Linked DNA regions of Homo sapiens. Changing the gene in region 1 together with any one later gene gives a genetic interaction. Each region holds a gene or a part of one and is shown on either strand. Other genes may lie near its edges.

Evidence for each region. A genetic interaction does not mean that the proteins touch.
Region 2: changes in CDC73 (region 1) and TOP1 are lethal when combined (synthetic lethality), as found in Homo sapiens cells (one large-scale study listed by BioGRID).
Region 3: changes in CDC73 (region 1) and TOP2A are lethal when combined (synthetic lethality), as found in Homo sapiens cells (one large-scale study listed by BioGRID).
Region 4: changes in CDC73 (region 1) and CHEK2 are lethal when combined (synthetic lethality), as found in Homo sapiens cells (one large-scale study listed by BioGRID).

What each region holds. Positions count from the first base shown.
Region 1 is NC_000001.11:193,233,531-193,237,030, forward strand, and holds part of CDC73 (parafibromin), read left to right. Parts: intron 1-2,725; coding exon 2,726-2,826; intron 2,827-3,500.
Region 2 is NC_000020.11:41,031,822-41,035,321, forward strand, and holds part of TOP1 (DNA topoisomerase 1), read left to right. Parts: intron 1-3,500. UniProt on the Homo sapiens protein: Releases the supercoiling and torsional tension of DNA introduced during the DNA replication and transcription by transiently cleaving and rejoining one strand of the DNA duplex.
Region 3 is NC_000017.11:40,404,397-40,407,896, forward strand, and holds part of TOP2A (DNA topoisomerase 2-alpha), read right to left. Parts: intron 3,279-3,500; coding exon 3,153-3,278; intron 2,547-3,152; coding exon 2,436-2,546; intron 2,294-2,435; coding exon 2,188-2,293; intron 2,098-2,187; coding exon 1,988-2,097; intron 488-1,987; coding exon 395-487; intron 96-394; coding exon 1-95. UniProt on the Homo sapiens protein: Key decatenating enzyme that alters DNA topology by binding to two double-stranded DNA molecules, generating a double-stranded break in one of the strands, passing the intact strand through the broken strand, and religating the broken strand.
Region 4 is NC_000022.11:28,687,243-28,689,820, forward strand, and holds the end of CHEK2 (serine/threonine-protein kinase Chk2), read right to left. Parts: intron 1,974-2,578; coding exon 1,893-1,973; intron 745-1,892; coding exon 655-744; 3' UTR 501-654; downstream 1-500. UniProt on the Homo sapiens protein: Serine/threonine-protein kinase which is required for checkpoint-mediated cell cycle arrest, activation of DNA repair and apoptosis in response to the presence of DNA double-strand breaks.

The DNA of each region.
Region 1 (3,500 bases):
AATAACTTTATATTTTGGATAAGTAAACTTGATTTTACTTATAAGAAGAAACATTCCAACTTCTGGAAAACCCAGTGTAAAAAATTCTTTCCACTTGTTCATTTGTTCCGGATCAGCTTGTAGAACCCAGCAAATTAGGCTAATGTAAGGTATTCTATGTTTAGATTTTTGGTTTGGAGAATTTCAATTTTCTGGTAAGAAAAAAATGAAGGCATATTTTATTGTAAGGGAATAATGTAATAAAAATAGGAATAGCTCTTTTATCATGGTTTAACACTTTTATTGAATTTAAGTGTCCTTTAACAAAATATTAAGCTGTTTATAATATAAAGTGCCTATAAATTTAGACACACAAATTACCTTATTTCTTTAACCGGGAGTAAAAGTTGAGTATATATCCGTGATACAGAGAACGCAACACATGGCACATTAGATGAATTTACCTTTGAAGTACTTGTTAGTTTTCAGGCATTAAGAAGTCAAGGCATTGAGAATATTAATATTAAAAATTTTCTTAAGAAAATTGCAACCAGGGGGCACTGCAATTAATTAGTGTCACAGTATCTTATAGAGTAGTAGACCAGCCCCTTAAACTTATGCCTCAAGACTGGTAGGATAATTCTCTCTCTCTCTCTCTCTCTCTCTCACACACACACACACACACACACACACACACACACACACACACACATATATATATTTAAAATTTATATATTTATTTATATATATAATTTAATTATAATATATATAATATACATATTATATATATAATATAATTTAAAATATATATATATTTAAAACACACACATAAATATATATATATATATTTAAAATTATAATTCTTCTCTGGTACCTAATAGATACTTTGAGTAATATAGAAAATGAGTAAGATGAGAATTTCAGATATCAAGCTTAAAACCAAGTAGGAAAGTTATATCACTTGTATTTTATGTTTGCAGTGTATTTGCAGAAATAATACAGTGTATACAAATCTCATCACTATGCTGTAAAATACTGCTTGTGTGTATTAGTTAGGGTCTCCAGCCATTGAAGCCTCCAGCATTTTCCCTACTTCCTTATTTTCCTTTTCCTTTAATTGTCCTTCCAAGAATTCATGGGGAGTAACATTTTTATTCTGCTTCCGTGCTGATGCTATGAGACCCAGTAGAATATAAGTGACCTCTGTCCAGCAAATTCCCTTTGCTTTGGCAGGCATCTTGGGCTTTCAACTGTTGTAAGTTACATCATAAAACTGAAAGATTATTTAATAGTGTGCTGCATTGCCAAAGATGATTTTGACAGTTTGAGGCATGTATCCCATGAAAGGGGAAATTTTTTAACTTAAGATTTAATTTTAGTCTCAGAGATTTTTTTTAATTTTTTATTTTATTATTACTATACTTTAAGTTTTAGGGAGATTTTGAGCAGGTTGAGAACTTTAAGCTGGCAGTTTTTAATAGTTGTAGGTCTTTGCTTGAATAGAAGGTAACCCTGGTTTAATGTTTTTTTGTATGTCTGCAGTCGTCATTAATTGCAGTGGTTATCAAAGTGTGGTCTGCAGACCTCAGGTCATTCCTAAGACCCTTTCACAGAGTTGCAAGGTGAAAACTATTTTCATAATAATACTGAGATGGCTATTCTCATGATTTATCTGCCCTTAAATAGGAACAGTAGCATACCCAGTGCCCTAGCATAGTAATTTATTCTCCTCCTTCTCTTCTTCTCTTCTTCCTTTTCTCTGTACTTCTACCTTCCTCCTTTCTCTTCTCCAACATGCCCATGCACTTGTTTCTTCATTTATACAATGAGGTTTCTAATACAGTGAGGTCATTGGATTGTTTTGAAGATTAAATGTGTTAACATCATAAGTAACGCATAAAGTCCTTAAAATGGCACTTGACACATAGTAAATGCTCAATAAATGCTACTAATGTTAACCATTATTGCTGATAATGTTGTTGTTTTGTTCCCACCGCTTTAGTTATTGGCTTTAACTGTTTATGGCAGTACTTCTTATAATTTCTCAATTCAATTAAGTATTTTATAAAATAATGAAATTTGAGGGCCTACAAAGAAGTTTGTTCTTTCTAGGAAAACTGGGTTGTTTGGTTGGGAAAAAAATGCTTTAAAAACTACTTATAAATTTAGGGTGAATGAAACAGTTGTAAAACAATTGCAAAAATTATAAAAGTCTAAATGGTTTCTATACTCAGATTACTTCCTAAGTAATCACAAGAACTCAGATAAGGCCCTGGGACCTCGTAAAATGGTTGATGAGTTCCTATAATGTAATATTTTTAGTTAAAGTAAAATATTTAAGATGTGTTTGAATTTTAAATGATTTTTTAAACAACTTTTTTGATTAATAGTTATCAACCACTATTCCCTATTACATTGGAAAAGTGGGCCACTACTCTAATTAACAGAAGGGAACAGAAAGGGCAAACAAGATTACATACGAGTATTGTCCATTGAATTATGTTTAAAAGACTTAGGTGTAAAAACCAGATACATGAGAAGTATAGCAATCATTAATACATTCTAATGGCAATATCATATTGAAAAGGTGGTAAGTACTGTATTTGCTTCATGGAAGGATTGATAAGACTCTTTCACATGAATGTTTATGGGACTGTTGCCTAAGGGATTTATAGTAGCTAAAGCTCAAGTTTGAAATAATCTCCGTCTGTCCCCTACCTCCCCCCACCCACTTTTCTACTTGTAGGGACCGCGTTGTAGCCGTTTTTGTGCAGGGTCCTGCATGGCAGTTCAAAGGTTGGCCATGGCTTTTGCCTGATGGATCACCAGTTGATATATTTGCTAAAAGTAAGATTCTCTTTGTATTTACTGTATCCAGTATAGAAATGTTCTCACTTTATTTAAGAGAAACAGTCATATAGTTCTGCGCATATGATGTGTATGTCAAAAGATTGCTGTTAAGTAACATATGTTAATGTTTAAGCATCTGTGACATATTTTTAAAAGCTTTGTATATTAATACTTTCTGTGTAGGTATATCTGAAAGTGAATATTGCCTATCCCACAACATTACTAATTATTTTTAGATCACTTAAAAATCATTGGCCAGACACAGTGGCTCACACCTGTAATCTCAGCACTTTGGGAAGCTGAGGCAGGTGGATCACCTTAGGTCGGGAGGTCGAGACCAGCCTAACCAACATGATGAAACCCTGTCTCTACTAAAAATACAAAATTAGCCGGGCATGGTGGTGCACACCTGTAATCCCAGCTACTCGGGAGACTGAGGCAGGAGAATCGCTTGAACCCGGGAGGCGGAGGTTGCAGTGAGCCGAGATCACTTCAGCCTGGGCAACAAGAGCGAAACTCCGTCTCAATAGGAAAAAAAAATTAATACTGTTGCATGTCCATAGATTTTGATTAAAATTGATGCCAGTTTTTTTTTTTTTTTTTAGACGGAGTCTGGCTCTGTCGCCCAGGCTGGATTGCAGTGGCGCGATCTCAGCTCACTGCAAGCTCCG
Region 2 (3,500 bases), on another chromosome or scaffold:
TATTTTCTTACAGAGCTGAAAAAGGAGAGAAGGAAGGATTTGATAATTTGTCATTTGCTTTTTATCTAAACATGCTTTTTGAAGAGAATCTGCCACCATAAAGTTCTGACATTGGTGTAATTATTCTTTGTGAATATTGTCTGGAAGATGTGGTGTTGGTAACTATGCTTGCTATCTCAAGTAATACATTGTTAACCAGTGATTGATTTATGTAACTATGAAAAAAACTTTAAAAAAAGTAGAAATCAATGTTTAATTATGCCCAGACATGTCATTATTGAACTTTGTATTAAGAGATTGTTTAAGCGTGATTTTAAGAGGGCCTAACCCATCTTACAGATTAACTGTACAAGTTCATATATTAAAATCAAACGTCTCTCATTTTGCCTGCCCTCATCCCCTAAGATATAAAAGATTCCCCCCCGTCCCCCCACTTTGGAGCTCATTCTTCGCAATATTTAAAATTGTAGCTCTTTGCATGTAATTTAGAACATTCTGACCCATACTCAACTGCTGGGAGACTCTGTTATTTATATTTAAAATGTTGACAGTGAGTTAGGAATTTGGAGCAGAAACCATATCTAAGTCTAAGTGAAAAGACTTCCTAAGTATTGGTAGAACTAACTGTAGTGGGGCTGAGTCATTATTACAGTACTGTACAGGCTGCGTAGCTATCTGTAGAATTGATAATGGTAATACCAGGTTAAAGTGTTAGCGATTCTTCTGCTGTTTCAGAGGTCTTGAAGTTTTTGCCTGTCTGCTATGGAGATAGGGAGTTCTCCCCCATTTGACCCCCTTAGCAAAGCACAATACTTGGCTCCATCAGTCTTTAGTCTAAGAAGTGATATATAGGATCATGGTTTGACATCATCTTGTGCTGATTCTGGTTGGCTTAATGGAATCAAATTGGATGAAGGTAATTAAATATGAATTGTTTCTGATGCTAATAGATAGTTGTACTTCTGTCTGTTGGGTATGGGTTGGGATGGGCGGTAGCATAGCTGATTGCGGTGGGGGAATTTCAGATAGCTGATGATGTGGCTATCTGAAAATTGCCACTACATTTTTAAAACTGAAAAGTGATGGTACCGCCAAATGAAATCTGCAGCATCCTCAGACTCAATCAGGAAATACTTAAGCATTATGCTCCAGGGTGGTTTTCTTCCCTTACATTGCAACTGGACTCCTTGAGGCACCTTTTTAGAATTAGTGAGCCGCTAGGATTTTTATACTATGCTTTGACATAAAAGAAAGTTGCTTGTCAATATGTGTTTTTTTAGTTTACCAGCATATCAGATCTCACAAACAAATTTTAGGCTCGGATTGGATGTTTCTAGTAAAAACAAGAAAATCCAGGCATCACTAAAAGAATCAGAAATACGTTGTGGCTTGAAAGGTGCAAACTAAATAATATAGCTAGCAGTAACGGTCACCAACTCCTGCTTTTCTTTGGTTCAGTAGATAGAGTAAAATGGAAAATAGGAAACCAAGGTCAGTCCCCAAATCTCATTTTAACCAATAGCAGCAAAAAAAAAAAAAAAAAAAAGGAATTGAGTCTGACTTTTTCCCCTTGCTGTCAGCATAAAGATGGGGAATTGAGAGAGTTGGAAAGACATTCATTAGTTTGTTCAGATTATTAAATAACATGTCTTAAAGTTTATATTCCAAAATTGGGCTGTGAGGTTTTTTTGTTTTGCTTGTTTTCAGTGCATGTGTGGGGTGGGGAGGTGCAAAAAAATGTTTGCCTTCTAATATACAGCTTTGTTGTATATTAATTATATAGTAACAGTTGTCCCTGCTGCTAATGGTATGGAAAATGATTCTGTTGTGCTTTCTGAATACATATCATTTTAGAAGTTTCAGATTATACTAAAACCATGTTATTTCATATTAGTTGGACATGAATGCATATTTATATGACACATCATTATCAACTTTTGCCTTTTGCCATCTTTTTAGTGCAAAGTAAAACTGATATTCTTCAAATCCAAAGTCGTTTCCTCAGAAGTGTGTTTTGTGAGGGATTGCATCTTTCCCATGTGAAACTGTGTCGAACTCCAGTAAACTGTGTTTGCTTGGGAAAATGAATTCAAATGTAATTAGTTTGAATGAAGCTGTGGAAATGTTTGAAATGAGTATTTTGACATTGGACCTGGAGGTTTAAAAAAAAAAACCCTATTGAAAGAATAGTAAAATATATTGGATGTGGAGGTGAGAGTCAGTTGAGTGAATTTTCTGTGTTGTATGGTTTAGATTATCTGACTATCCCTTAATTATTTTGAAACCATTAACTTTGGATAATAAGGGCATTTAGGCAAACAGTTGACACATGGATTTCTTAAGGTAAAAAGTTTAGAGACTTCCAAACTAGTCCTTAAGAGGCGAATGGGTATTGTGTTTAAAGGAAGCTTTCAGATTGTGTTTAAACTTCGAGTAGTAATATTTGGAACTGTCTTTTCTCCCTATTTCCATGCCTCATACATCTCAAGTTTGAGCAGCAGCTTTCCATCCCCATGGCTCCAGGCCAATAGCTGCAGTAGAAAATCTAAAATAGAGGCCAGGGTTGGAATAATTAGCATTTTGCCAACCCCCACCCTCCCTGCCACCTGCCTATCTAGATGTGGACAGTATGTGCTGTGTTGATAGCATAGGGCCTGGGAAGGGTGGAGAGGGATGTAAATGAGGGCAGGGTGGACAAAGTTTGATTGGGGGTTGCGGGGAAGCTTGTAGAGGAATGTCTGTTAGATATTGATGGTATTTTGGTGGCGTTATGAGAAATGGCTGATAGTTTGCTGAAATGATTTAATAGTAAATAGATATTGTTGAACATTTTCTGTGTGTATAGGAAAGATCCTAGATATTTTTCACACTGGGAGAGAAGTGATGTTACTGGTATCTCATGCATATCTCTGGAGTATATAGATCGTAATATCAACTTTGGCTATCTGTATCGAAGTTTGTATTAACTGTCTTTATGTGTGTCATTTATGTCTCTTAACGTTTAGTAAGAAAGAAATTCCAAGGAAGGTAGGCAACTTTTAATTTTAACTTCTTTCCTTTACTTTTTTTTTGGGCGGGGTGGGGGGCAGACAGGGTTTCTGTTTGTTGCCCGGGCTGGAGCGCAGTAGTGTGATTGCAGCTCACTGCAACCTCTGCCTCCTGGGCTCAAGCGATCCTCCTACCTCACCCTCCCAAGTAGCTGGAACTACAGGTGCATGTCACCACGCCGGGCTAATTTTTGCATTTTTTGTAGAGACGAGGTTTCTCGCCATGTTGCCCAGGCTGGTCTTGAACCCCTGGGCTCAAGCAGCCTGCCCACCTCAGCCTCTCAAAGTGCTGGGCATGAGCCACTGTGCCTGACCCTTAATTTCTTTTTGGTAGGTATTCATTTTTCATTTGTTGTCTTAAGCTTCTAGTTTCACTCACTTACCTGTCTGCTAAATTTTTCTGAAATGTGTAATAAATGTTTTAATTTACCATCTCCCTTCTACCCTTCCCAT
Region 3 (3,500 bases), on another chromosome or scaffold:
GATCTCTCGTTATCAGAATTTGAGAACAAGATAAGTTCCTTGTTGATGAAGTCATTATATGTCAGATATGTGGTAGTTTGTCCATACAAGTAATCCTGAAGGACCAAATAGTATTACATGAGTCTACCGGTCTAAACAATGCTCAACACAAAAATCAAACAGAAACCTTTCAGAACTAAGAATTATTTCTGTAATTCTTAAGTCTTTAAAAAATATTGAATAATACAGAAATATTTTATATGTTTTAAAGATAAAGCAAATTTAACTGCTGCACAACTCTATCATATCAAATTTTTTACTAAAATAACTATTCAGTAAGTTTAATTTGCTATAGTATCAATACCAAAAGGTCAGTCTAACAATCCATTTTGTGGCATATATTTAAAACTTTTACCTCAGGAAGCCCAAGTAACTTTCGTTGTCTTCTATCCTCCATGAAATTAGTTAACCATTCCTTTCGATCATCTATCTGTTTTTTGCTAAAGGCCTATAAATTAAAGGATGAAAAGATGTCACTGGTACTAATAGGCTAATAGGTTCCAAAATATCCTTCTACAAAGAACGAACAACAGAAAAACAAAAATACTGTTTTCCTTTTTTTTTTTTTTTGAGACGGGAGTTACTGTTCTCTTGCCCAGCCTGGAGTGCAATGGTGTCATCTTGGCTCACTGCAACCTCTGCGTCCTAGGTTCAAGCGATTCTCCTGCCTCAGCCTCCTGAGCCCCTGGGATTAAAGGCGCCCGCCACCACGCCCAGCTAATTTTTGTATTTTTTTTTTTTTGAAATGGAGTTTCACTCTTGTGGAATGTGATGGCACGATTTCGGCTCCCACAACCTCCACTTCCCAAGTTCAAGTGATTCTCCTGCCTCAGCCTCCCGTGTAGCTGGGATTACAGGCACGTGCCACCACACCCAGCTAATATTTTGTATTTTTAGTAGAGATGGGGTTTCACCATGTTGGTCAGGCTGGTCTTGAACTCCCGAGCTCAGGTGATCCACCCGCCTCGGCCTCCCAAAGTGCTATGATTACTGGTGTGAGCCACTGCGCCCGACCTTTTTTGTTTTTTTTTTTTTTTGAGACAGAGTCTCGCTCTGTCGCCCAGGCTGGAGTGCAGTGGCACCATCTCAGCTCACTGCAAGCTCCGCCTCCTGGGTTCACGCCATTCTCCTGCCTCAGCCTCCGGAGTAGCTGGGATTACAGGCGCGTGTCACCAAGCCCGGCTAATTTTTTATTTTTTATTTTTTTTTATTTTTAGTAGAGACGGGGTTTCACCGTGTTAGCCAGGATGGTCTCCATCTCATGACGTTGTGATCTGCCCGACTTAGCCTTCCAAAGTACTGGCATTACAGGCGTGAGCCACCACGCCTGGCCTTTTTCCTTTTTTTTTGAGATGGAGTCTCACTCTGTTGCCCAGGCTGGAGAGCAGTGGCCTGATCTCGGCTCACTGCAACCTCTGCCTCTCGGGTTCAAGCGATTCTCCTGCCTCAGCTTCCCAAGTAGCTGGGACTATAGCTGCGTGCCACCACGGCCGGCTAATTTTTTGTATTTTTAGCAGAGATGGGGTTTCACCTTGTTAGCCAGGATGGTCTTGATCTCCTGACCTTGTGATCTGCTCGCCTCTGCCTCCCAAAGTGCTGGGATTACAGGCGTGAGCCACTACGCTCGGCCAATTTTCGTATTTTTAGTAGAGAGGGGGTTTCACCATGTTGGACAGGTTGGTCTCCAACTCTTGATCTCAGGTGATCCACCTGCCTTGGCCTCCCAAAGTCCTAGAATTATAGGCATGAGCCACCAAGCCCAGCCAAAAATCAAAATTTTCTAAAATATCTGATTCCTTCTCTGGGATATGCTTACTGGAAACATTCTATTCTATAAAACATTCTTTTTTTTTTGATACGGAGTCTTATACAAAAATGTAAATGTTTCAACTGGCTAAAGTAGTGATTTCTAAAATTAGAATGTATATAAAATACAACTCAAACCTACCAGGCTGATAGCAGCATCATCTTCAGGACCAGAATATTTGAACTGGATACGATGTCTTTTCATATCTGCAAAGTATTCTTTAGCTTCCTTTGATGTGCTGGTGCCCAAACCTATAAAACCAAAAATACCAAGTTCCTTCATATAGTCTTGTACAGGGTGTATAATAAAATGAGAAGTTCTATATGGGTTTCATTACAAACCTTTGTAATATTTGACTTTCCATTTTTTATGATTTGGAGTAGAACTCTTCCACTCTTCAAATTCAGGAAGGCTGTAAAATGCCATTTCTTGCTTGTTTTTAGATACCTGTGATAAAAAACAATGACTGTGGCTTTGTACACTGTGGGGTCCCCTGTATACCACTACATGTGACGGGGCTTATATGTATATCCAGGTTTGAGGAGTAGGGTCTTAAAATATCCATGATGGTACTTAGAAATTAGCGTACCTTTACAATGGGAGTGATAAATTCCTCCAGAAAACGATGTCGCAGAAGAGAGGGCCAGTTGTGATGGATAAAATTAATCAGCAAGCCTTTGATGTGGGAACCATCTTGGTCCTAGAAAGATTTGAAAGCCAAAGTTCAAAAGAACTGTTAGGCTGGGCGTGGTAGCTAACATCTGTAATCCCAGAACTTTGGGAGGCCGAGGCAGGCGGATCGCCTGAGGTCAGGCGTTCGAGACCAGCCTGGCCAACATGGTGAAACCCTGTCTCCACTAAAAATACAAAAATTAGTTGGGTGTGGTGGCATCCGCCTGCAATCCCAGCTACTCGGGAGGCTGAGGCAGGAGAATCGCTTGAACCCATGAGGCGGAGGTTGCAGTGAGCCAAGATTGCACCATTGCACTCCAGCCTGGGCGACAAGGGCGAAACTCCATCTCAAACAAACAAAGAATTGTTTAGAAATAAAAAAATATTATGACTGACCTACTGGCAATTTGTCAAATTTTCTATGGGAATCAAAAAAGGTCTGTTCAAATCCAGACTCACTTAACCTGTATTTGCAACATACATATGATATAAGCATATCTGATTAGATGTTGATTAGAGATGATGAATAAAGCTCCTATTTAACTAATTTATTTTCATGGCAAAAAACAATGAAATTAAATTAAGACATGCTTAATTTAGTTGAACAATCTAAAAATTTAATAACAAATCTGACCTGATCTGTCATAATCATTATCTTCCCATAACGAAGCGTCTTCAATGAATCTTCATCTTCATAGTTTTTCTTGTACTGAAGACCCACAATCTTGATGATATTGTTAATCTCAGCATTTTCCATGATCTGAAATGGACATATACCAAAAAAAGCATCGTTTATAAATTTGAAAAGAACAAAGAAATTTAACAGTATATGTTGCTTGGATTTTCTTGAGCTCCAGTATTTTGAGCTATTAGCTTATAATTTACTACATCAGAAAGGTCTGTTAAAATAGGCTACAATGTACCTAATTTCTCAAAATAAGCACAAATTGTCTAAAATATATTTTAAAATGCCTAATGAGGG
Region 4 (2,578 bases), on another chromosome or scaffold:
TCCCTTCCCTGGAACTTTCCAAGGGGCCCTTAGAATTTGTATTCAGCTCTCACAGGCTGAGACCAGGGTGACATCCTGGGAAACCTGCCTAGTGATAGCCAAGGTGTAGCTCCAGATGAAAGGCACACAACTTTAAATATAAAAAAGCCATTCAGGCTAGGCTCAGTGGCTCATGCGTGTAATCCCAGCACTTTAAGAGACTGAGGCAGACAGATCACCTGAGGTCAGAAGTTCAAGACCAGGCTGGCCAACATGGCAAAACCCTGTCTCTACAAAATATATAAAAATTAACAGGCATGGTGGTGCATACCTGTAATCCCAGCTACTCAGGAGGCTGAGGCACAAGAATCGCTTGAACCTGGGAAGCAGAGGTTGCAGTGAGCCAAGCCTGCACCACTGCACTTCATTCAGGCTGGGCAACAGAGTGAGACTCCATCTCAAATAAATAAATAATAAAGCCATTCAACTAAAGAACCGATTATCAAGCAGAAGCACAAAGCCCAGGTTCCATCAGGTTTTTAATTGTACATCAGTGACTGTGAAAAAGCAATTATTCCCATAATTAAAATACAAACTATAAAAAAACAGACTCAAAGAAAAGAAAGATGACAGAGTGAAAGAAGGTACATTTCTTTCGTGTTCAAACCACGGAGTTCACAACACAGCAGCACACACAGCTGGGCGCTTTGTGGTCTCGGCACCCTCGGCTTCCCCTTCACGGGGCCGCTTTCGACTAGTAGAAGGCTGAAAATAAAGGAAAATGGAGAAATGTTCAAAAGAAAATCACTGGCTTCTTTAAGATTATCAAAGTTCCTCAATATGCTTCCAGTAAAGTGGGGGCATTTGATGTGAAATTCTAGAACCAAAAATTACTGGTTGTCATCATTGACAACTGAGTCCTCACCACAGCCCCCAACTCAGACATGCTTATCTAATAGATATTTCTCTCCCTTATGGCTTCTGACCTCTGAACGATGTATACTGAAAGCAAGTAGCATAACCAACTTCCTCTTGATCGTCCTCTTCTAAATATCAAGTTTAAAAGGACTATAATACCTCTCAGTTGAAGCCCCAAGTCTTGGTCTTTTGCGGGAAGACAACCTTTGTGCCTTAGTTGTTTTCCCATATATAAAATTGGGAGGAAGGCTGGGTGCGGTGACTCACAGCTGTAATCCCAGCACTTTGGAAAGCCGAGGTGGGCAGGTCGCTTCAGGTCAAAAGTTCGAGACAAGCCTGACCAACATGGCAAAACCCCATCTCACCTAAAAATTCAAAAATTAGCTGGGCACAGTGGCGGACACCTGTAATCCCAGATACTCGGGAGACTGAGGCAGGAGAACTGCTTGAACCCAGGAGGCAGAGGTTGCAGTGAGCTGAGATTGCACCACTGCACTCCGGCCTGAGTGACAAACCAAGACTCTGTCTCAAGAAAAAAAAAATTGGGGGGAGGAAACAGTGGGAAAAAGGACAGCTACCATTCAACAACAACAACAACAACAAAAAAGCAGGACTGGAATTAACTTATACTCACAAAGAACTTTAAAGAATAAAATTGTAATCAAGGAATCAACTACTGACCCAAATTTTAATTTGTTCAACAAATTTATATTTGAGCCTCTAATAGAGTCTTTCGAAATTGCCTTGCAGGTGACCTTTTGGATGACAATCCCTAGCTGTGCTTATCGGTCTATTATGTGTTAGATATTAAACATATCCTGCATTTTTAAATCTAAGGGTGCTGGAGCGAATCAAGTTAAAACAGAGTTTCTACTACATTATAACTGAAACAATGTTAAGCAATTGCTACTCAGGAAAATCTTGAATTTCATCATCTTTGCTTATCAGCTCCTTAAGCCCAGACTACATTTAGTGATCATCAGGAATACGAATACCTGGGCTAGAACCTGGGGTAGAGCTGTGGATTCATTTTCCTCAGACAGAAGATCTTGAAACTTTCTCTTCATGTCTTCATCCTGTGAGGGAATTAAAAACATAAGTAGCTGTGTCTGAAGGATAATAAACTCCTAGAATGACAGGGCTAGCATGCCCCTGTGGAAAGAGGGAGGAAAAATGTCCGTCCAAGAATCATCCCCTTGATGAAGCTCCCACAGCGAAGGCATTATGTGTTGCCCGCCTCTACCTTCCCAGAGGAGTCTAATTAGCAGTCAATGCTCCATCAATCCTGGCTGACTCACATCCACATGCCTAAAAGCTCTCAGTGGGTCAATCACAGCCTCCAGCAGTCAAGAGTTTCTTAATTAGTATCCAAGATCCTGAGAAAGGTGGCAATCAGGAGGCCAGAGGCTGGGCCTGACTCCGTGCAGCTCCTCAAATCCTTCCCGGACCACTCTCCACCTGCTGCCCCTGCCATGAATGAGGCCAGTCACCCAGACTGTCCTAACAACCAGCCCAGCACCCTAGGAAAATTCACCCAGCAGATGCCATACAAATTTTCAGAAGTACTTAAGCCCACAGTATCCCAGAGCTCAGGTCTAATGAGAAAGGGAGACAATAAACAGAACCAAGTATTTTGTTTCTGCTGCAGGAGCGGGAGGTGAGGGGTTTCATGCTGCAGGAG